Regions from separate parts of the Homo sapiens genome. Here region 2 is linked to region 1. Evidence: fine-mapped expression QTL. A gene starts in region 1. The other region holds a variant in brackets. All regions are shown on one strand. Distances are between the middles of the regions. Region 1 holds the start of SCRN2 (secernin 2). Region 2 overlaps SP2 (Sp2 transcription factor).

Region 1 (11,057 bases):
GAGATGAGTCTGTCCGGGACAGGCTTCCCGCCAGGTGAAGGGGGGACTGTGTACCACCTCACACAAGCAGGAGAAAGGAGATACCCCCCGACATTCCCCAAAGGCAGTTGCTGGCTTTGAAGGGAGGAACTCCTCTCCCCAGCTCTGAAATCTCTTCCACTCCCTAGTTCCTTCATATTTCCAGAGTCCCACTGGGAGTGGGGGAGGTCTATCATCCCCTCAAGGTAGCCCCTACTCCCTGGGGGATACCTGATCTCTCTCCATCAGCCCCAGGGCTGCCTGGTGTCCACGGTAGAGGGTATGCCGACGATCTACCTGAGTCTGGAATCGGGGCAGGGTCCGAACAGGGTCTTGTGCTCCAAAAGTGGGGGACAGCACCTGGGGGGCCTGGGCCACCCCCATCCCGAAGATGAAAGGTTTGAACACAGACCTAGAGGGGCACAGATGGAAGCACGGAGATATATCAGATCCTCTCTTCTCCCCAGCCTTCCCCACCCTCATTCTTCCCACCTGGATGGGTCTGGCGTGGCGGTAAGAAAGTGCACGCAGGGCTGCGTGGGATCCTGGGGCAGGACAGACACCATGCTGGCCGTGGTGCGAAAGCCTCCCGAGTCCATACAGATACCACTCTCCTTGTCTCTGAGGATGCCCATCATCACCTCTGCCGTGATGCCCCCTGCCAAGGAGTAGAGGGGGAAGCTGTGGGAGGGGAGAGTGGCTGGCACTGCTGTGGCCCTCCTGGCCCCCAGCCCCCTCCACCGTTCACTAACCTTGCCGTTGCCGCAGCAGCTCCCGCCCTGCCTGGAAGCGGGCCTTGGCAGCCTCCATGCGCACAGGCTGCTGGGTCAGGGAGAAGATCTGAGCAAAGTCAAAGGCACCCTGCCCATCCCACCAGCCCTTGGCCTGGGCATGAGTCCGCAGCTCCGGGTGTTGGGCCGAGATGTCCGTGCCAATGCTCAGCTGGTTGGAGATGTTGCGGGCCCCCTCTGTGGAGGAGATCGGGGAGTGGTTCATTTACCATTGAGCATCTATTCTATGCCAGGCACTGGGCGAGGTGCTGAGAACATGGTGGAGAAGAGAACTACCTACCCTCATGGAGCCTACGTTTTGGTGGGGGAGGCAGACAAAATAATCACAGAGATAAATGTAAGCATGCAACTGTGTTGAATGCGATGAAAAAGAAGTACCTGCTTGCATATAAGCAGGAAACCTGACCACCCAGGGAAGTCCAGGAAGGCTTCCCAGAGGAAGCAACAGGCTGTAGCACACGGAAGACTTAACCAAGTGAAGGGGAGGAGAATTCCCAAGTGGGCTCATCTCCCATCTCCCTGGATGTCCTGACAGGCTTGCACCTGGATCGGGCCCCTCCCTGCCCCTACCATCTCTCCCACTTCCCAAAGCTGGGAGAAAGGGAACACCTCACCCTGGATCCTCTGTGCAGCCCAGAGCCTCCCAGCTGTCTCCAGCACCCACGCCTCAGTGCGGTCAGCCAGCAGGAAGGTGCTATGGTAGGAGAATGGCGCAGCATCCTCCAGGCAGTTGCCCCCCTGCCCATAGTGCTCCAGTAACCCTGTGATCACATGCAAGGCCTCCTGGGCAGAGCTGCTCCGTTCCAAAGCCAGCCTGGCAAAAGAGAGGGCCAAGGGACAGAAGGGTGACAGAGGGATCAATGGCTGGTGGCAGAAGCTCCAGGGGACAGAAGAGGCCCGGAGAGGTTTGGTGATAGGCCCAAGTCACACAGCAAATCTGCTGGCACTGATCGTATCAAATGCAATTATGCCAGTGGCTTTCAATGCTCTGGTTCCATGTGCTATGCTTTGAGGGTTCCATGAAAAGGCCTGAAACACAGTTTCAGAGAGAGAAGTGTCCTGAGCCCCTAACCTCTCTCCACCCAGAGCTGCTCCATCCACTATTACTGGTTTTATAAATTGGGACTCTATGTAAGATTTCAACTGAAAATAAATAAATAACCACTGCTCTATTTCTGGGCCAGGAGAGGCCCAAAGGTGGCTGCTGCTGCAGCCTTCTTCACGAAGGCACAAGGGCAAAGTCTGCAGAGAGGAGGAGGCCCCTGTGAACCAGGCTGGGGGAGGGATGGATGGGCCCAGGTCAAAACTCAGCCCCTAGATTTCTGGTGTGTCAGGCAGATGAGGAAGGGCAGGGTCTGCACCTGAGTAGGTCCATGCCCAGCAGGGCTTCCCCCTCCCCAACTGGCTCCTTCGTCCACACAGCCTCGTTGCCAATGCAGACACCATGCTCGTTGGCGCCCATCTCAGCCCCCCATAGCCAAGAAGGACGGCTCAGAATCACAGCGTGCGTCTTCGACACCTGTTCCACTTCAATGTAGGTGCACTGGAGGTGAGGGAGGAGAAAGGAAGCGTCCACTCATAGAGGGGCGGCCCCTCGAGTGTGGCACTCTGCCAATTACCTTATAGATCCCTTTGAGGAAGGTCTCATTCCCATTTTACAGAAGAGGAAACTGAGGTAGACTGAGGCTACATAATGAGCTCAGGTCCAGGTTGGTAGACCTAAAGCTCATGCTCTTCCACTACTTCTGGCAGCCTCCCAGGTGTGGGGAGCAGGGAAGAAGGTCTTAAAAGAATGCAGAGATCTGCCACACCTCCCAGCACCCCATAAAGTCTAACCCACCTGGAGCCGGCTCCCAGGAGTGTGAGTGCCTGCGGGGACAAACACCACCTCCTGCACCTCGTCCCGGGGTCGGTCCGAGTTCTTGGCAAAGATCACAGCCGGGATGGCTGAGGCCGGGGGCACGGAGACAAAGCAGTCGCAGGAACATGGGGAGTCAGGGCTCGACGACGCCATCTGGGGAGAGGCGGGCCTCTCCATAACCCTGGCCACGGCTCAGCCCCGAGGAGCAGCCTACCCCCACACGTGTAAAAGACGCGCAAGGAAGACACCGCCGTGGCTCCTGGACGCTCGGCGCACACACCATGGACGGGTGTGCGGGAACGGAGGTGCCCACCCTCTCCCCAGGCTCCAGGCTTGGGAGTCCGCAGGCGGGCACTCCGGGGGTCCCGCCCCCACTGGGAGTCCCGGCCCTTCGGAGCAGTCGTGGGACCGTCCCCCTCGCTACCCCACCAAGAGTCCTGCGGCCCTGCGCATGCCCAGATACCCGACCCTCTTCTGTCCAACCCTTCTCTCACCCCCAGTACTGTATTCCCCTCACCCTCTCTTCCTCCAAGACCCCAGCTCGGTCCCGGGTGCCACCTCCTCCGCTTCTGGCCAGGGCCGCCCCATTGGGCGGAGACTCTCAGGTGACCTGGAAGGCCTTCGGCCTCGGGGTCGGAGCCGGAACGGAGCCTGCAGCTCCGCCGTTTTCCACCAGGGCGCGCGCCTGCACCACTTCCCGGAGCAGAGCGGCCTTGCGAGTCCCACCTGGCTCCCTGTCCTACCCAGGCGCCCATTTGAGGCCTGACAAAGGCTGCTAACCCCACGGAGTCACTGCGGGGAGCTGGAGCTGGGGGTGGAAAGGATCCCGCGTGAAAAGGGAGACTTTGTCAGAGAAAGGGGACTGCTGGGACATCTGGAGATTAAGGAAGAACCTCAGATACTTGAGTCCTGGTTTGAATCCCAGAGGCGCAATCCCAGGCTGGAGGCGCCTAGGGGAATAAGATACAGAATACGAGAGTGGTGGAGGCTGGGTGCGGGGGGCTCGCACCTGTAATCCCAGCACTCTGGGAGGCGGTGGTGGGAGGATCACTTGAACCCAGGAGTTCAACACCAGCCTGGGTAACACAGCAAGACCTCGCCTCTACAGAAAATATTTTAAAATTAGCTGGGCGTGGTGGTGCGTGCCTCTAGTCCCAGCTGCTCTGAAGGCTGAGGTGGGAGGATCTCTTGAGCCAGAGAGATTGAGGCTGCAGTGAGCCAAGATCACACCGCGGTACTCCAGCCGCGGTGACAGAGCAAGACCCTGTCTCTTAAAATAAATAAATAAGGGAAAGTGTGCACAAAACCCATCTGATCCCAGAGGACCTATCTGTCTGATAGTGCTCAAACCCATAGGAAGATCGCTTTAAAGGGAAATTTAGAACTTTCTAGTTCAAAGATTTGGTGCCTTTACCTGTAGTGAAACTGAAACCACAAAGAAGTCTTGGCCAAAGGTGACACACAGTCATGTGGAGGTACACTCTGATCCCAAATGTTTTGATTTTCAGTTCATTTTTCTCTACAAACCATCTCTCCATAGCCATCATTAAGACAAATGCATCTTACACCCTTTTGCTCTGTGGAGCCCTCCAGAATGGAGAGAGGGGAGATGCTGCAGGTTATCTGCTTCTAGGGGTTGCACTGAATCTATAGATGGCTTTGAGTAGTATGCACATTTTAGCAATAGTAATTCTTCCAATCCGTGAGCATGAAATATCTTTCCATGTCTTTGTGTCTTCTTCAGTTTCTTTCATCAATATCTTATTTTCAGAGTACAGATCTTTCACCTCTTTGGTTAAATTTATTCCTAAATATTTTATTATTTTGGTAGCTATTGTAAATGGGACTATTTTCTTGATTTCTTTTTTGTATAGTTTGTTATTAGTGTATAGGAACACTATTGACTTTTGTACATTGACCTTGTATCCTCTGACTTTACTGTATTTGCTTAACAATTCTAACAGTGGGCCGGGTGTGGTGGCTCATGCCTGTAATCCTAGCACTTTGGGAGGCTGAGGTGGGCGGATCCCCTGAGGTTGGGAGTTCAAGACCAGCCTGGCTCACGTGGAGAAACCCCATCTGTACTAAAAATACAAAATTAGCCAGGCGTGGTGGCACATGCCTGCAATCCCAGCTACTTGGGAAGACTGAGGCAGGAGAATCGATTGAACCTGGGAGGCGGAGGTTGCGGTGAGCTGAGATCGCGCCATTGCACTCCAGCCTGGGCAACAAGAGCAAAACTCCGTCTCAAAAAAAAAAAAAAGAAAGAAAGAAAGAAAGAAAACAATTCTAACAGTGTTTTAGTGGAGTTTGGCCTTCTTTCAAGCCTACTGTGCTAGGGTGCTGGCGGTCAGTCATGCTAGGATTAATGGGAAGGTGAAGGCTGTTTCTGATACAGTGTCGGGGAGGGATTGTGAGGTTGCCAATTAATGTCATTCCAGAAGCAAACATCGAAGCTGCGTGCTGAGAAATCTGGGCACCTGAAGCAGCTTGCAGGAAGGCGGGTTCATCTCCTGCAGTTTCCCGGCTTCCCACTGTGGGGCGGAAACAGGCAGGAGGAGAGGCAGAGAGAGGCCACAGCGCACCCCCAGGTTGCAGTTTCCAGGCTGTCTTCTTCTCTGTCACTTTCTCATTTCTTATTTCATTCACCCACCCTAGAGGTTAGGAGTAGATTCTACTTCCACTTCCCAGGAGAGGAACCCAGAGAGCCAGCCCAGATGTTCTGATTTCCCTAACCCTTTCCTGGGCCATCCATGATCCTCCTGCCAGGCACCCCATCTGAGGGGGGTCAGAGGTGGCTTTGGGTTCCGTCGTGGGGGGGATGGGGGGCAGGCCAGCCAGGCAGCATTTCCAGCAAGGAAGCAAGTGTCAGAGCCCCACCAAAGGCCCCTGCTAAGAATGCAGGTCAGCGGGAGGAGCTGCATGGGGAGGAGGGGTGGCCCCAGCCCTGCCCAGACAGGCCCAGCCGGCCGCACAGCTGCCCTCCTGTCCCTGGGGGCAGCGATGGGGGTAAAGGAGGAGGGGACTCACCAAGTTCCTGGGGTCTAACTCCCCTAGAACCAGGAAGACAAAAGAGGCACCTGGAGGAGTGGGGCTGGCATAAGGTCTTAGGAAAACACACCTGTCCTTCCTCCTCCCAGCCTTCTAAATCTAGCAGCAGGTGGAAACAAAACAATTGGCCCCAAACCAGTCTGGTTTCCTCTACAACCCCTAAATCATTCATTCTGATGCCCCTATCCTAAGGTAGCCATAAAGGTTGTGACCCCAGGATCCCAAATTAAGTTATGGGATGGGCCAGCCTGAGTACCAGATTTGGCTTCGAGAAATTGGGTTAGGGTTAGAGTGGTGGATCTAGAAATCCCACTAGGGGAAAATAATACTTTTGGCAAAAAGGTAGAATGAGAAGGTGAAAGAACATAGTAACCCCCGCCCCCCAGCCCCCTTGGAGCCCAAAACCTATCTTCTGTCAACCTTCCTGGCTTTGGGGCTCTGGAATCATGAGGCTTTCTACTCATTTGATGTGAATTAGGCACCAACTTTGTATCAAGCACTGGGAGGCCTGGGAAGATGTGTACAGATAGATATTTCTGCATATCTCTGGGGGCGGGTGCACGTGGGTCCAGTGCGGGTATGTTTGTGTGCCTTGTGGTTGTGTAACCATGGTGGGTCTCTAGCTGTGAGCTACAGTAGGAGCCTTTCCCTCATACTTTCCAGCTGGGCAGGAGCCCATCAGATAGCTCGGCTGCCTTTCATCGCCTTGTCCCTGATAAGGATCATCCTGGGTGAAGTAATCACTGCCAATCACCCCCAGCTCAGTCACAGGCAGGGGATGGACTGACATGCACCCTCTATGGGGATGGAGTGAGGGAGCCAGTGCCTGGGAAAGAGGGAACCAGTGTTCTTAGCAGGGGAAGGGAAAGAAGGGGCTTGTATGTGGAAGAGGAAAGAGATATCTAGAAACTTCTCATAACCACAGGTATGAGACCAGGGAGGGACAGCCCGGGTACCAACCCAGAGGAAGAACCTCCCTCCTTCTGTACCAGCCACCTCTGGGGCAGGATCAGACCCCAGCTCCAACCCAACTCAATAGACATGAGGCTTTCCAAGGGGCTGCAGGATCACTGGGAAGCATCCACCCCACTCTGTGGCCCAGACCTGGTCCTCACTGCTGAGGGACACTGAGTCAAAAAGGAAACAGAGCTGGAACACAAAGGAAGCATGATGTAGTTGATGACTTTATTGCATAAAAAACACAGGCTGTTTCTCCCTCCTCCTACCCCCTCAAAGTGAGTTCACAGCAGTTAAAGAAAAAATAAATTCCTACATTTTTCCTCTAGGGGGACTGCCTAGAAAGACAGGCAGCCAAGCAGCCTAGATCTATAAAAGAGGGGAGCAGAAGAAAACCTATCCAAAGCCTCTACCCGCATACCTCAGAGCTTGGGGCTTCCATTGGGGGGAGCATCTGTGTCCACCAGCAACACCCATTTGGGAGTTCCCCTTAGGATGGCCACTGGAAAAGGCTGTCTTGGTGGCACAGGGAAGGGGTGGCTGGTTTCGATGGGTGGAGGAGAAAGGCATCTTACACCCACGGTGCCCTTCCTCTTTCCCCCTCTCCACCTGGCCAGGCAACCTGCAGGCACTGCCAAATCTCCTCCTGCCCCCAACCCTCTCAGCAAGGAAGGGGATCTCTGGTTGGGTTAGCAGGAGGTAGGGAAAAGAGAAAGAAAGAAAGAACATTACTTCTTAAACTACCCCAGGCCAATGAGTTCCTCGGGAAGGTCATCCTGTCCCTTTTAAGGAGGGCCCCTTTGTATACAAACACATATTCCCACCCAGATCCCAGCCCCCACTTCCCATATAGCTCCCAGACCTTGGCTGGGCTCCAGCATCTACAAAGGAGGAAGAGATGCTGGGCCCAGATCCCAGGATCTTGGACATGGTGAATAAGATGGGGTCTCCCTGGCTAGAGACCCCAGGCTCAGTAGAGAAACACACATACATGCACACAGGTACACACAACATGCACACACATAACCTAATATTAAATAAAATACCCTTTGCTTATAACTTAAAAATCAATACACAGCTAATCTCTGCAGAGGGCTCCGGGTGAAGAAAGGGAGCGAGGGGAAGGGGGAGGGGTGTCAGAGGGACTGTAAGGCCCCTCTCTTGAGTGTGGGAAAGCCCTCCGGCTGCAAGGGCTGTGGCCTGTCAGACCCTTCCTCATATCAGCTTCTTTCCCCTCTGCCTGGCTCAGCTTCTGCTGGGCTTCTCCCCTCCCTCCTTTCCTCTCTCCCCCACCCCATGATCAGAATCAAAATGTGTTTCTAGCATCTAAAGGAGAAGGGAATGGGGACAGCTTCCTGGATGTCACCTCAGAAGGCAGAACCCCTTCCAGTGGGAGAACAACTCTTTCCTCTCCCTTCCCCTGTGAGATGAGGGGGAGGAAGGAATCCCCTAATGAACATGCTATGGCAGGGGCAAGGGAAAGACAAGGGCCAAGCTAGAGAGACAGTGGGGTTTATTTTCTTGGTGACAGCTAAAGAGATGGTCAGGTAGGCTGCAGGCCTCCACTCTGAGTGGGAACCAGTGGAGGTCCCTCTGATGAGACACCCCCAATCTGCCCTCAACCAGCCCAAGAAACCCTCTTCCTTCCATCCCTGAGGGGAAGGCAACTGGTGGGAACTACATGGATTCTACCGCTGGCTGCCTTGAAAACACACCTAGGGTAATAGATGGGGAATGTGAGACTACTGAACTTTATTTATCATAGACCAAGAATTAAGGGCTGAATCAGAGGTGGAGAGGGAAGGGGTTAGTTCCTTCCATACCCCACCAAATCCCTATCTCTCATTTTAGAAGAGGACTTCCCTACTCGCCCCCTCCATCTATCTCGGTCCTTTATCGCCAGCCCTGGCTGGGAGGCTGTCAGGAATGGCAGCCCTCTTTCCCTCTTCCTTCATGGCTCCAACAGACTGGGTCTGAAAGGGTTAATAAGGAAGCTCATCAAAGGAGTTATTTTTACAGCAACAACCCTCCAAACCAGAAAGAGACACCCCTGCCAAGGGGGACCCCCAGGCTCCCCCATCCCATCTCGGCTCTCCCTCCGGAAACCCTAGGGGCAGAAGCACTTTAAGTGGGATGAAAGGGACCCCGCCGCAGGGCGGCTCCGGAGGCGCTTTTATGTCCTGGTTCCCAGGCGCTAAGGACGTGTCCAGACAGCCACCACCAGCGCCCCGGGCCGGCCCCACTTCTCTCTGCTCCGGGGACTGGGACTTGCTGTCTCCTCTAGCCTGTCCCCGCCAGCCAGCCGCGGTACGGGTGTCCCACCCCAACCCCCCAGCCCAGGGGCGAGGGAAACTGTGAGGCAGGGGAGAACAGAGGGGCATTGCGCAGCTCCTACCGACCCAGTCAAATTCATCCTGCCTAGTAGCCCCAGAGACTAAGAACCCCTAGCGCCCCATCTCCCTGTCCCTGCACCACTTTTCCTCCTCCCTGAATAAATACGCACCTTCCCCTCTTCCTCAAGCCACCCCCAAGGACGTCAGACCTGGGGGCTCGCATCCAGTGCCCCCCGGGATACCCGCAGGGAGGCGGCACTGAGGAGCTCAGTTGGAGGGAGCCACGCTGCCCTCGGCCTCGCGTTTGCCTTTGCCCCCGGGGGGCTCCACTGCGCCGCCGGCCTTGCCCTCTCCCGAGGCCGCCCCAGCCGCCTCCTCCTTGGCGCCCTCGTGGGTTTTCATGTGCTTGGCCAGGTGGTCGCTGCGCATGAAGACGCGGCTGCAGACTGCACAGGGGAACTTCTTGGTGCCGGTGTGGGTCTGGAGGTGGCGCTGCAGCTCGTCCGAGCGCGTGAAGCGCTTGCCGCAGAAGAGCCAGTTGCACACGAAGGGACGGTCGCCGCTGTGCCAGCGCAGGTGCGCCTTCAGGTGCGACGTCTTGGCGTAGGCTTTCCCGCAGCCCGGGATGTGGCAGTTGTGCAAATGCTTCTTCTTGCCCCCATCGGGCCCACATGGAGCCCCCAGTCGCTCCGCCTCCAGACAGTTGGGGCAGCGACAGACGGTCTGGCCTGAGCTGCGGGGCACCGACCGCCGGGAGCCTTTGGGACGCGCCGCCCCGTCCAGGCTGGAATCCAGCCCTTGAGACTCCGGGGCGGCTACTTCCAAGGCCTTAGCCCCGTCGGGCGGCCCTAGGAGATGCTGCCCTCCGGCAGCTGGAAGGAGGTGGTGCGCATGCGGGTGGGGTGGCGGGGCACAAAGCTGGTGGTCTCCGACGTAGCCCCCCAAGCCCGCCTGAAGCGCCCCCGGGTGGCCAGGTGAGGTCAGCGCGCCCTGAGTGTGGGGGAGGTCCATCCAGCTGGTGCCCGGATGAAGGTCCCACCACGAGCCATCCTCCGCGCCTGGGTGAGTCGGCCTGAACCACGATTCATAATGGTGTGACATGTCCGGCTGCAGGAGCTTGGAAAAGGGGCCCGGGGCCAAGGGACTGTCGCTTTCCAGGTCCTCGCAGGTTACCCGCGAGGAGGCCCCTGGCAGCTCATAGCCCTGCGAGAAGTCCACCTCCGGGCCCAGCGGGAGGCTCTGCAGCTCTCCAGGCTGCAGCGGGGAGGGGTAGTCCCCGGCCTCAGGGCTCGTGTGGCCCTGGTAAGTTTGGAGAGGCTGCAGGTCGAGGCGCGGCGGGGAGGCGTGCGGCGCTTCCGTGTGCTGGCTGCCCAGAGAGCCGCAGACAGCGGTTAGCATTGCCGGGATCCGGGGTGGGGTGAGGGCAGGGACGGTCAGGGGCACCTCAGACGGGACCTAAAGGAGGCGAAGAAGCAGAAAAGTAAGGGAAATAACCAGCTCACTTTCCCTCCTAACCCAGGTCCTCCTCTCTGGCCCCAGGTGTAAAAGAAGGATGCACCTCTGAACGAGGACTAGAGATGAGTTTAGAGAATTCGGGAGTGCGAGGAAGGGTCCAAGATGTGAGGTTCTCATCCAAGCACAGAGGATGATGGAGGTCTACCTTCCTCTGGGTGATCCCTGCCGTATGACCCAGCTCATCCCTAGAGTTGGGCCACTCCCAGGATGGTAGGTCAGATACACCTACAGCACAGTGCTAGAACCATCCCCACCCCAGCTGCCCAGGCCAACACAAGGGGCAGTGGCATTTTCCCCCTGCAGACCTGCTGTCAGCCCAAATGGAGGATCTAGACACATCTCAGCTTCCCCAGTTTAACTCAGGATACAGATGGGAGAGGGGATGGTCTATTTCTGAAACCCAAAGCTTCAGGTGACCTGCCCCTCATAAAGCCTCAAACGGGTCCTGAGTCTTTGAAAGAGTTCTCATGCCATTCCCAAAGCATGTTCAGTAATGAAAAGCATTTCACCGTCTACGCTGCTCCCCGCCTG
Region 2 (13,386 bases), 65 kb after region 1:
TGCAGTGGTGCTATCCCGGCTCTGCCAATGCATGTCAATGGAGAGAAGCATTAATAATGCATATCAGTTGAGAGAAGCATTGAAATGCAGTAGTACCTGGTGTGTGGTGATGAGAGGCGTGCGCTTTGAAGTTTTTGGCCAGGAGCAGGACTGGACTGCACTGGCCCACATGTGAGGTGACTGGTGGGGTTGAGGGTTCCACCAGGGTCTGGGTCAGCTAAACCCAGCTGTGGAGTGGATCCTGACCTAGTGCCAGGATATGCAAATCTGCAGCTTTTCTCCTTTGGTTCCTAAACTCGCTTTAGGCCCTCCTGCTCTAAAGCCTCCAGGATTTATTCATTCACTTATTCAACAAATATAGATTATTAAGCACCTACCATGTGCCAGGGACTGGGATACATCAGTGAGTAAGGCAGAGAAGTCCCTGCCTTTAGGAAGCTTACATCTTAGTGGGAGACAATTAATAACTAATAGATATTTGTTAGACAGTGAGAAGTGCTAAGGAGGCAAAATGAGGATAAGGTAAAAAAAGGGGGGTGGCAATTTACATAGGGTGATCAGGGAAGGTCTCAATGATAAGGTGACATCCGAGTAAAACCCTGAAGGAGTGGGGAGGAGATTGAGCCTTTTTCTATCTGGGGTGAGGGGAGGAGGGTGAGAACTCAGCAGAGAGAAGAGCAATGCAAAGACCCTCAGCAGGGGCCATACTTGGTATGTTCAGGAACAGCAGGGAGCCAGCATGGCTAAAGCAGTGAGAGAGGGAGAGTGACAGGGCAGGTGAAAGAGGTTAGGTCACACAGGGGCCTTTTGTGTCACAATGGAGATTTTGGCTTTTACTTTGAGTGGGAGATGGGATGGTATTGGGGGCCTCTGAGCAGAGAAATAACATGGTTTCATTTAAGTGTGATGGGTCTTACTCTGGATGTGTTGAGAATAGACTGATGGGGTCAAGGTCAGAAGCACAGCTAGGAGGTTAATCCGTGGGAGACATGATAGAAACCTGGACCTAGGTGATGACAGAGGAGGTGGTAGAAGCAGTCAGATTGGGCATATATTTTGAAGATAGAGTGTTTGCTGTCAAGTGTAGGGTGTGGAAAAAAGATAAGGATAACTCCCAAGGTTTTAAGGCTGAGGAGCTGGAAAGATGAAGTTACTATTCATTCACTGCAGTGGCGAATTTTGAAGGAGTCACAGGATTAGGACAATATCGGGAGCACTGTTTGGGGCTAGTTAGATTTTTGTTTTGTTTTGTTTTGTTTTTTGAGATGTTGTTTTGCTCCTGTCACGCAGGCTGGAGTGCAGTGGCACAATCTTGGCTCACTGCAACCTCCACCTCCCGGGTTCAAGCGATTCTCCTTCCTCAGCCTCCCAAGGAGCTGGGATTACAGGCGGGCACCACCACGCCCGGCTAATTTTTGTATTTTTAGTAGAGACGAGGTTTCGCCATGTTGGCCAGGCTGGTCTCCAACTCCTGACCTCAGGTGATCCACCTGCCTCGGCCGCCCAAAGTGCTGGGATTACAGGCGTGAGCCACAGCGCCCAGCTGGGGCTAGTTAGATTTACGATGCCTATTAATACATCCAAGTGGAGCTATCAGTAGGCAGTTGGATATACCAGTCGAGATAGAAATGTGAGAGTTAAAATTATATAGAATCTGTATCTTACTGGTTTCTAAACCCACGAGACTAGACAAAATCAGCTAGGAAACAGGTGTAGACAGAAGAAAGGTCCTGAGACAGAGTCCTGGGGCAACCCAATCATTTAGAATTTGAGAGGAGAGGAAGAACCAGCAAAGGAGATATGGGAGAAGTTAGCCAGAGACTAGCAAGTGTGTCCTAGAGGCCAAGTAAAGAAAGTGTTTCAAGGAAGAAGAGGCCAGGCGCGGTGGCTCACGCCTGTAATCCCAGCACTTTGGGAGGCCGAGGCGGGCAGATCACTTGAGGTTAGGAGTTCGAGACCAGCCTGGCGAACATGGTGAAACCCCAACTCTATTAAAAATACAAAAAATTAGCCGGGCGTGGTGTCAGGCCCGTGTAATCCCAGCTACCTGGGAGGCTGAGGCAGCAGAATCACTTGAACCGGGGGGCGGAGGTTGCAGCGAGCCAAGACCAAAAGGAAGAGCAATCAACTGTCAGAGCAACACGGATGACGTGGTTTAAGAAGTAGCCATGGCCGGCGCGGTGGCTCACGCCTGTAATCCCAGCACTTTGGGAGGCCGAGGTGGTCGGATCACGAAGTCAGGAGATTGAGACCATCCTGGCCAACATGGTGAAACCCTGTCTGTCTCTACTAAAATACAAAAAATCAGTCGGGCGTGGTGGCACACGCCTGTATTCCCAGCTACTCAGGAGGCTAAGGCAGGGGAATCACTTGAACCCGGGAGACGGAGGTTGCAGTGAGCTGAGATTGTGCCACTGCACTCCAGCCTGGCAACAGAGCGAGACTTTGTCTCAAAAAAAAAAAAGAAGTAGGCCAGGTGCAGTGGCTCATGCCTGTAATCCTAGCACTTTGGGAGGCTGAGACTGGCGGATCACGAGGTCAGGAGATCGAGACCATCCTGGCTAACACAGTGAAACCCTGTCTCTACTAAAAATACAAAAATAAATTAGCCAGGTGTGGTGGCGGGCACCTGTAGTCCCAGCTACTCGGGAGGCTGAGGTAGGAGAATGGCGTGAACCCGGGAGGCGGAGCTTGCAGTGAGCTGAGATTGTGGCACTGCACTCCAGCCTGGGTGACAGTGAGACTCTGTCCCAAAAAAAAAAAAAAAAAAGAAGTAGAAGTAGCCATTAGGTTTTTAGCAACATGGAGGTGTCTGGTGGTGTGAACAGTTTTCGTGGCATGCATGAGGAGGGTGCAGCCTGGTTGGAGCAGGTTTAAGAAAAGCTAGCGGGAGAGAAATTAAGGACAGTAAGTATAGGTAACTCCTGCAAGGAGTTTTGCTTGAAGAGAAGGGGAGACATAATGGATCTTAGCTGATGAGGGAAATTTTAACTTCTTGATGAAATTGTAGACATACCTAAGGGTCATTGCCTGAGGCTGGGGGTCTGAGATGGCGGAGTGGGGGGAGATGGGAGGCTCAGTAAAGGGTTAATGTGGAGACAAGATCTCCATTCCTTACTCACCTTCTTGCTTACTTCGGCCTGTGGCATTAGCAAGCCACGGCCCAGAGTTGTTCTCATTGAAATGAAAGCCATTGAAATTTGTTTTACTGTTAATGGGCTCTTTTACCATGGTTTTAATTTATTTGTTTATTTAAAATTTTTATTATTATTTTTTAAAGACAGGGTCTCACTCTGTCATTCAGGCCAGAGCACAGTGGTGCAATCATGGCTCACTGCAGCCTCGACTTCCTGGACTCAAGCAATCCTCTCGCCTTGGCCTCCTAAGGAGCTGGGACTGCAGGCACACACCACCACACCCAGCTAGTTTGTAAACATTTTTTGTAGAGATGGCATCTTGCTGTATTGCCCAGGCTAGTCTTGA[A/T]CCCCTGGCCTCAAGTGATCCTCCTGTCTCGGCCTCCCAAAGTGCTGGTATTACAGGCATGAGCCACCGTGCCCACCTTATAATAGTTATTATGATTGCTGAGGTTTGCCTCTCATTGAAATATTCAGCACAATTTGGAGTCTTTCACTACCAAGGTTGCTGCTTTCTTCATCCAAATGGATTCTCATACCCCATTTGTGAGCTTTCTTTGAGGTCCAACTTTGTTCTCTAAAACCAGCCAGGGCATGCTTTTCCCTCACCAGCTCTGAATTCTTCCAGGCTAGGCAACTGGAAAAGCCTGGGCTTAGAAACTGCTTTGTTGGCTTACGGCCCAGCTGAGCTGACCAAAATAGCCAAGAGAAAGACTGTTTGCACAGTGTGAAATTCCTCCAGGGGAAATACCATAGCAAAAAGCCAAGAAAGCCAGACCCACGATGGCAGGAACCCACAGGCAAAAAAAGCCGAGTTACCCCCAAGGCCTGGGTTGTGGAGATGGAGCCTAGTTCTCTCCAGAAGAAAAAGCTTCCTAAAGCCTACTGTTGTGGTATTTCTGTAGGCGCGTTTTCTCATTTGCTGGGTCTCAAGAGTAGCATTCTCAGTGAAAGGAACAGTCGAACAGCCTGCAGCCTGGTGGCCAGGGCTCAGAGGTCTCTCTTCCTGTTACGTGCTCTCCCCAAGTCAGGCCTAGAAAGACCGTGGGACAGGGACACACTCCCAGCTCTGTGTTGATGGGACAGTGCCGAAGGGTGCCTGGAGTATGCACTGGCAGGTAGCAGGGTCACCTGCCCCAGATTTGAGGTGGGAGGAGGTCAGGAAAGGCTTTCGCTGAGTGAGAGTATAAATGAGCTCTAAAGGACAGGAGCTGGCCGGGCAAATGGGAGAGAGTGTGCTTCAGGCTCCAAGTGAGACAGGGTGGCGTGTTTTAATTCCAGAAATGAAAAACTGAAGTGTGTGTTGGGAGAGTTGGAAGGGAAAGAGGTCAGGAGGGAGGACCAGGGAGGGACAGGTTGTTCTGGCCTTTATAAGTTTATCACAAGAGCATCAGGGAACAATTGAGGGGGTTAATTAGGAGAGTAGCTGGATGGGATTTGCACTTTAAAAAGAGCCTTCTAACCAAATTGTGGAGGCTGACTAAGGGGGAGGCCAGAGGCCAGGAAGCAGTTTTAGAGGCCGTAGGCAGTATCTCAGGTGGATCATGGTGATGAGGATGGGGAGCCTGGGTACACTATAGGGAGATTTGTCTATGAGGTGGAATCATGAGGACTTGATGATTGGTTGGCAGTGAGGGGGATACTCAGGTTTTGTCCTGATTGGAGATACCAGAAGAGAGGCTGCTTTAACCCAGGATATTCATACAGCCCATAGGCACTGAAGGTGTCCGTGAGCCATGTGCCAGGCCTTGGTGTCTGCAGTTCAGTGGTGTAAACAGACATGGCCCACCCTGGGGAGCCCTCGCATACATTGGGCTCATGATTAGTTAATGAGTGGTGAGTGTTCCCAAAGGAGTTAGCCTCATCTCAGGGGTCCAGAAAGGCCTCTCTGAGGAAATGGCATGCCTGTTACATAATGGCTCTTAAATTATGCTGGGAAAGTCAAACAGCCAGAGACCTGAAGGGTGAGGTCTTAGCTAGTGAAGAGAACAGAAAGAGCTGTAAGCAAGGAAAGACAGCTGCAGACACTGAAGTTTTTCAAGGATCTGGAAGAAGGCCTGTGGTGGCTGAGGGTGAGAAGGCTGGACAAAGAATGGGCAAAGCTGTCGCTCAGTGCCCCAGGTGTCTGTGGCCAGCCCTAATGGAAGACCCACAGAGGGCTGGATGTACAGGTCTAACACGTGGAGCAGAGATCTGGGCCAGACACAGGCCTATGAGTTGGCAGCCTGTGGAAGGTATGTAAAGCCGTGCGAGTAGGCATGGTCACCCAGGGAAAGGGTGCTGGGTGAGGAGAAAGGACAGATGTTGGGGAACATCAGTATTTAAGGGTGGCAAAGGAAGAGGAGCCCACAAGGGGAAGAGGTGGCAGGAGAGGTGGGAGAAAATCCATGGGAATTTTGAGGAAGAGGCACTGGTCAGAGGGGCTATTGGATTGAGCAGCAAGGAGGTCGCTGGTGACCTGGGCAGGTGCAGCATGAGCGCAGTGCCAGGGTGGATGTCCTAATGCTGCCGGGAAATGAGTGAGTAGGGAAGGAGGGAGGGGACGGCAGGGTGCCAGCAGTTTTTCTACCAAGTTTGGCCAAAGGGGTAGGAAGAGAAGGCTGTGCTGGAGGGGACAGGAGGTAGAGGCGGATGATCAGTAGTACATCAAGAGTCTAGAAACTCAGGGGATGCTTTTCTGCTGGTTTTGGAATTAAATTGGTTTCCAATATGGGAAAGGAATGTTGTGTGTGGTCCCATCGGGCACCTGCAACCCCATCCCTATGCCATGCTGCCTTCAAACTTTGTTTGATGCCCCTGGAGTTTTCCATGGAACCTAAGAGAGGTACTATTGCTTGTATAGTAAATAATTGTAAAACTTCACCAGCTTGGGGACTGTTGGGAAAGTTTTAGCCAACCTAACTTAATGAAAAGTCTGAATGATATAACTTTGAAAGCAATGCAGCTTTTTCTTTCAAGAATATGCACTAATCCCACTTACCTATGTTGTTAAGTGTTGGTTTCAGTGACCGGATGTAAACTACTGTTAAAACCAAGTGGCACTATTAAAATGGCGGAAGTGGTATAAAACAATTATTCTGACTAAGGGTCCCTTTGCAATCTTCGAACACCATTTAGGCTCGCTTTAAATAGTATGAAAGAAAAGTTAAGCATAATTTATGTCCAAATTGTATATTTTAAATATAAAGTTCCAAATTAATGAGGTTCTAAAGTGCCTTTGATCATAGTCTTACAGTTAGGTATCTATGCTACCTCTTCTTAACCACTTTTCATTTCCAAACATCAGTGGGAAATGCCTCTCTTTTCCTTTTCGTGGTTAATTCTGTAGTGGCAGGGAGATCGGTCTCTCTTTTGGTTGCCCAGGTCTGCAGCCTGTGGCCATAAAGCTCTGAGTGACGCTAGGAAAGATACTTGCAAACATTGGTTTGAGATCTATAGGAGTATTTCAGGAACCAGCTGGGGAGGAAAATGAAACCAAGCTGAAATGGTGCAACGTCCAGCACTAGCAGTCTGCAGCTTGCTTCAGTAGATTCTGCTTTAACCTCCTAACTGAAGAGTCACTCAGAACCCAGCCCAGTGTCCAAACAGTTTGAGTCCAGGGTAATAAGGACTGCAGAGAGGGAGATGATGAAGAAACGCTAGGCCAGTTTTTATTTCGTCTCATTTCATTTACACTCTGCGCGGATCCTATGTCTCTTGTTTTATAATAGAGGATGTCTAAGAGAGTCATTCACTAATTTTAGCTAAGCAAACCTGAGCCCTGGGGGAGCCTCCTGGGAGAGCCATTGCCTTCCTTTGCAGTTCTGCCAGCAACAAACTCATCTTGTATTTTTATCAGCAACATGGTCTGAGAAGTATAAAAATCTTTTTTTTAACTTATTTTAAATCACTGCACTTTCTTCCAGTGAATAAAAATCTTTTTTTTTTGAGATGGAGTCTTGCTCTTGTCGCCCAGGCTGGAGTACAGTGGCACGATCTTGGCTCATTGCAAAATCCGCCTCCCGGGTTCAAGCGATTCTCCTGCCTCAGCCTCCTGAGTAGTTGGGATTACAGGTGCGCACCACCACACCCAGCTAATTTTTGTAGTTTTAGTAGAGATGGGGTTTCCCCATGTTGGCCAGGCTGGTCTCGAATTCCTGAGCTCAAGTGATCTGCCCGCCTCGGCCTCCCAAAGTGCTGGGATTATAGGTGTGATCCACCGCGCCCGGCCATGAATAAAAATCTTAAAGATCATTTGGTCCAACTTCCCACCCCATCTCAACATCCTGACTCCAGCAGGGACACATGTCCTGCCTCTGGTTAAGTGATTCCAGAGAAGGGAGAACATAGTACCTCAGAAGGCAACTGATTTTCATCTTTTCAAAGTTCTCTCTTGTGTTAACTAAAATCTGCCTCAAAATGTCCACACAGGAGTCTTGGTTCTACCCTTTGAACCCATGTCCCCACTCTGGCACCCTGACCACAACCATTGCTGCTGTCTTCTGAACAAGCTCCAGCTGAAAATCCCCCTTTTAAAATGTCCCTCAGAACAGAACCTGATGCTCCAGATGTGGCCCAAGTGTGTAAACTACAGGAGGATATTATTTTTTTGTTCTATGACTGAACTTTTAGAAATGCAATCCAAAATTGCAGTAGCCTTTTTGGCAGCCATATCTAGATTGTGCTGGCCCCCATTCAGCTTAAAGTCAAAACCTCTGGGGCTTTTCCACATGGCACTATTAGGCTCTTTCTGCCCTATATGCATGTGATTGGTTTTTTAACCTAAGTGGAGGACTTATTTTTTTTAATATACAGACAAGGTTTCACCATGTTGCCCAGGCTGGGCTCAAACACCTGAGCTCAAGTGATCTGCTCACATTGCCCTTCCAAAGTGCTGGGATTACAGGCTTGAGCCACTGCACCTGGCCAGGACTTATTAAACTTTAAAGCCATATATGCCTTTAAACCCTCGATGCAGTGATATAAATTATTAGAGCCTCACAGAAATCCTAGAAGGATGACATTACCTTTGTTTTACAGAGGGCACTAGGAGGAGGCTAAGAGGGACCATCCCACTAATGAACCACACAGTCAGAATCTCATTTAGGTATGGAGCCTGATGTTCTTAAACATTGTACCTACCAGTTTTTTAAGATGTCCTTGAACTCTAATACTAATACCCATTGTGTTTCCAATCCTTCTCACTTTTGTGACATCTGCAAGGTTTTTTTGTTTGTTTTTTGATACCGAGTCTTGCTCTGTTACCCAGGCTGGAGTGCAGTGGCACCATCTCGGCTCACTGCAAGCTCTGCCTCCAAAGTTCAAACAATTCTCCTGCTTCAGCCTCCCAAGTAGCTGGGAGTACAGGCATGCGCCACCACACCCGGCTAATTTTTTTGTATTTTTAGTAGAGACAGGATTTCACCATGTTGGCCAGGCTGGTATGAACTCCTGATACACCTGCCTCAACCTCCCAAAGTGCTGGGATTACAGGCGTGAGCCACCACGCCTGGCCAACATCTGCAAGTTTTACTTGTCGTCTAGATCTTTGCCAAACTTGGGTGGTGAATACCATTCTAAAGCCTAAGTTTTCCAGCCTGTAGGGCACAAAACCAATTTAGTGGGTCACAGCCAGCATTTAAAAAAACAAAACAGAATAGAAAAATATCACGGTCCGTCACATGTAATAAGGGAGTTTTGTTTCAGGAAACTTTCATTGCATGAGCATGGGACAGAAATGTGTGGTGTATGTATGCATATGGTGGGTCTTGATGCAAATTGTTTCTGTAACTGTGGTTCGTGGTCTGATAGTTTGAACACTACCACTCTAAAGGAAAAATGGTTTGGGTTGGCTTAGATTATTTTCATTATAATATTACAACTTAATTTTATATGAACATGAATCTGTGTGTCAGCTCATTGATCTAGCTCCTATAAAGTTCACACATGTAACTACAAAAAAAGCCAGTAAAATTCAAATTATCAGCATCATTCTGAGAGGGTGATGTTTGACTGAACCCAAATCATTGCTTTTCCTTGTAAGCATGGCACAGACTTGACACTTAGGCTCCTTGAGTTCTGCACACCCATCCTGTAGCGTGTCAGTCAGAGTAATACAGTCTTTCCACTGCTTCTAAAGTTATGTCATCTTTCACTTTGCACAGATGTATCGTGAACTAAATGTGCAGAATGAAGTTGTCCTAATTAGCCCACACAGTGCACTTGTAAACACACACACAGGCCCTGAAATGTGCAGGACTTGGTTATGCAGCAGTTACCTGGTGATCTATGGTATATGTTCATTTTTAAAAAGATGATTGGGCTGGGTGTGGTGGTTCATGCCTGTAATCCCAGCACTTTTGGAGGTGGAAGCAATGGGATTGCTTGAGCCCAGGAGTTCGAGAAAAGGCAGGGTAACATGGCGAAACCCCGTCTCTAGAAAATACATAAAAATTAGCCGGGTGTGGTGGTGTGCACCAGTGGTCCCAGCTACTTGGGGGGCTGAGGTGGGAGGATCACATGAGCCCAGGAGGCAGAGGTTGCGGTGAGCCGAGATCACGCCACTGCTCTCCAGCCAGGGTGATAGAGCAAGACCTTGTTTCTAAATAAATAAACAAACAAATAAATCTTTGTTTTGGCTGGTCATGGTGATTCATGCCTGTAATCCCAGCGCTTTGGGAGGCCAAGGTGGGTGGATCACTTGAGGTCAGGAGTTTGAGACCAGCCTGGTTAACAAGGCAAAACCCCGTCTCTACTAAAAATACAAAAAAAATTAGCCGGATGTAGTGGTGGGTGCCTGTAATCCCAGCTACTTGGGAGGCAGAGGTTGCAGTGAACCAAGATCATGCACCCCAGCCTGGGCAACAGAGTGAGACTACATCTCAAAAAAAAAAAAAAAAGATTGGCCGGGCACAGTGGCTCACGCCTGTAATCCCAGCACTTTGGGAGGCCAAGGCAGGCGGATCACGAGGTCAGGAGCTCGAGACCATTCTGGCTAACATGAAACCCCCTCTCTTACTAAAAATACAAAAAATTAGCCGGGCGTGGTGGCGGGCATCTGTAGTCCCACTACTTGGGAGGCTGAGGCAGGAGAATGGCGTGAACCCGGGAGGCGGAGCTTGCAGTGAGCAGAGATCGTGTCACCGCACTCCAACCTGGGCGACAGAGCGAGACTCCGTCTCAAAAAAAAAAAAAAAAATCACAGTGAAAACACACAAGAAAAGAATAAAAAGGCCTCTGCGGAGATGCCTGTGAACCCTGGTCCTGAGACCCACCCCAGTTCGAGACACTTTGCAGCAGCAGACTTCTCAGCACTTAGGTGGAGGCATGCTCAGCTTAGCCCCAGACAAACTAGACTATCATATTGCCCAAGTTTCCTCCTTGTTTGTTCACAAGAATATTATGAAAATGTCAGCCAGATGCCTGTTGAAATAAAATACCTGGTGTATACCATGCTCTTGATGTATCCATCCAAAACCCTACAAAAAAGAAACAGATTTGTTCAGCATGACCTGTTCTTCTATATTATAATGCTATTCCTTGTGGTCACTCCTTCCTTTCCTCAGTAGTTAACAGTACTATTCAATCATTTGTCCTAGGATTTTGCCAAGAATCAGTGCCTGTAATATTACGGGATCTGCATATATAATTTTGCCCAGAGCTGCCCTCCAGCTCCATACACATTTGCAGGTGTGTCTGCAAAGTCTCCCCTCCTCTGGAGTATAGTTTGTGTGGACTTCAGGCCTGGTAACCATTTAAGGCACTGGTGTGCTTTCTTACCAGCTCATCACCTATCCAGGGCTTCAGTTTCCACTTCACCTTTTTTTTTTTTTTTTTATGGAGATGGGATCTTGCTCCATCACCCAGGCTGGAGTGCAGTGGTGTGATCACGACTCACTGTAGCCTTGACCTCTCAGGTTCAAGCGATCCTCCCACCTCAGCCTTCCAAGTAACTGGGACCATAGGCATGTGCCACCATGTCCAGCTAATTTTTAAATTTTTTGTACAGATGGGGTCTCCCTATGTTGCCCAGGCTGGTCTCAAATTCCTGGCCTCAAGCAATCCTCCCACTTCACCTTCCCGAAGTGTTGGAATTATAGGCACGAGTCACTGCATCCCGTGCCTTCACCTTTTCTTTACTTTTCCCCATTTAAGAATTGTTCTTCCAAACAGAGAAGCCTGAGGCCAGCCAAAATGTGAACGGTTCTGCTTTCCCAATATGTATCCTTTTGTTTGTTTGTTTGTTTGTTTGTTTTTGAGACACAGTCTCACTCTTGCCCAGGCTGGAGTGCAGTGGTACGATCTCAGCTCACTGCAACCTCCACCTCCTGGGTTCAAATGATTCTCCTGCCTCAGCCTCCTGTGTAGCTGGGATTACGGGCACCTGCCACCACGCCCTGCTAATTTTTTGTCTTTTTAGTAGAGATGGGGTTTCACCATGTTGCCCAGGCTGGTCTCTAACTCCTGAGCTCAGGCAATCTGCCTGCCTCAGCCTCCCAAAGTGCTAGGATTACAGGCGTGAACCACCACACCCAGCCCAATATCTATCCTCTTTTTGCCAAATTCCTTACAAGGACTCAACCCCTGCGCCTTTTTGTTTGTTTTTTTTTTAAGAGATGGGGTCTTGCTATGTTGCCCAGGCAGGAGTGTTTTGGCTATTCACAGGTGTGATAATAGGGCACTGCAGCCTCAAATTCCTGGCCTCAAGTGATCCTTCCATCTCAGCCTTCCAAGCAGAATGCATCCTGAGCCTTTTTGTCTCTTTTAGTCTTTAAAGTAATACCCCTCTTATTTCTGTACTTACTGAAATCTGCTTTCCAGAGGTCCAGGATTGAAGTCTGACTCTGCCTGGTGTTCTTTTCCTTAGTGATTTATGCACTTTAAGATGGTATAGATTCTTTCTCCTAAAATTCTCATGACTTTCGTTTTCCTGATACTGTGTTTCTTTCTTTTTAAAAAATTTTTATTAGGGACGGGGTCTAACTGTGTTGCTTAGGCTGGTCTTGAACTCCTGGGTTCAAGCGATCTTCCCACCTCGGCTTCCCAAAGTGTTAGGATTACATGCATGAGCTACTGTACCTAGCCTCTTTTGGATGACTTAAGTGCACAGTAGAGAGTCCCTTCATTACTTCCTCAACCTTATTTTTCTTTATTTAAGAAAAAAAGTACAGTAGAATATATTTATCATGGGAAAATGAAAAAGTACAGAAAACCAAGGTGCAAAATAAGTTTAAGTCAAACAAAACTCAACCGCTAGGAGATAATGGCTTAAGACTTTTTCCTATTTGATTATATTCATATATAGAAATATATACACATTTAAACAAAAATAGAATTTACTCTGTTTTCATTCTCCTTGTTATATCCAGTTAGTCATTAGCTCTACTGAGTCTTGGTTGATGCCTGTGGGGCCGTGCCTATTGTACTATGTAAAAGCGTAAATTCAAGTAAAGAATTGACCCATGAGGCCAGGGATGGTGGCTCACGCCTGTAATCCCAACACTTTGGGAGACTGAGGCAGGTGGATCACCTGAGGTCAGGAGTTTGAGAACAGCCTGACCAACATGGTGAAACCCTGTCTCTACTAAAAATACAAAAATTAGCTGGGCATGGTGGTACATGCCTGTAATCCTAGCTACTCAGGAGGCTGAGACAGGAGAATCACTTGAACCTGGGAGGTGGAGGTTGCAATGAGCCAGGATCGTGCCATTGCACTCCAGCCTGGGCAACAAGAGTGAAACTCCTTCTCAAAAAAAAAAAAAAAGAATTGACCCATGTGCTGTATATGCTGCCTGGGGACAACGGCCTTTGTGGTGAAGGCTGAGCATAAAACACCCAAGACTTGGCAGTGGAGCAGGTGTGTCCTCCTTGTCAGAAATCTTGGCTGAGCGATACTTCCCTCCCAGTTTTGGCATCTGTCTACAGCAGGAGTGAACAGGAGGCTTGAGTTTGAGCTAGAGGATTAGCTGGGGAGCTCCCCCCTGCCCACCATAGAGGAGTTCCAGTTTAGCTATGGAGAGCCAGCAGTGCCCAGCAGAGAGGGCATAGCTGAGTTACAGAAGAGAGTCCTGGTATAATCTTGGTTATTTTTGTGTTATCTCAGACTCTGTGGTGGCTGGAGGGGGCAGTCCAACGACAGCAGGACCAGCTGTCCTCACAGCCTCAGATGGCTGAGTCTGAGGAGAGGAGAGGAGAAAGTAATCTACTGAAATAGATGTAAGGCTATCAACCCAGGGTGGGTAAGTCTGGGGAAAAGTCATTAACTTCCCTTGGA

Evidence for each region. PIP is the estimated chance that this variant, and not a neighbour inherited with it, causes the effect.
Region 2: its variant is the best candidate, but not a certain one, in a credible set for the expression of SCRN2 in amygdala (GTEx, PIP 0.54).

Annotation. Positions count from the first base shown.
Region 1 is chr17:47,838,021-47,849,077 of GRCh38, forward strand. It overlaps SCRN2 (secernin 2), which reads right to left and starts at 3,253. Exons shown (of 8, transcript NM_138355.4): 1 at 3,188-3,253; 2 at 2,650-2,823; 3 at 2,171-2,352; 4 at 1,424-1,623; 5 at 771-986; 6 at 511-676; 7 at 250-430. The coding sequence starts at 2,823. SP6 (Sp6 transcription factor) reads right to left here. Exons shown (of 2, transcript NM_001258248.2): 2 at 6,888-10,466. The coding sequence starts at 10,409. The coding sequence ends at 9,279. RefSeq lists enhancers at 2,722-2,821, 2,725-3,280, 5,103-5,152, 9,097-9,705.
Region 2 is chr17:47,901,511-47,914,896 of GRCh38, forward strand. All of the region lies in intron 1 of SP2 (Sp2 transcription factor), which reads left to right. The region is part of intron 2 of SP2-AS1 (SP2 antisense RNA 1); the gene reads right to left. Among named protein-coding and RNA genes, the nearest start is that of SP2, 12 kb to the left of the region's middle. RefSeq lists enhancers at 1-86, 591-1,094 and a silencer at 2,582-2,775. The variant A/T (reference allele first, on the strand shown) is at 3,484.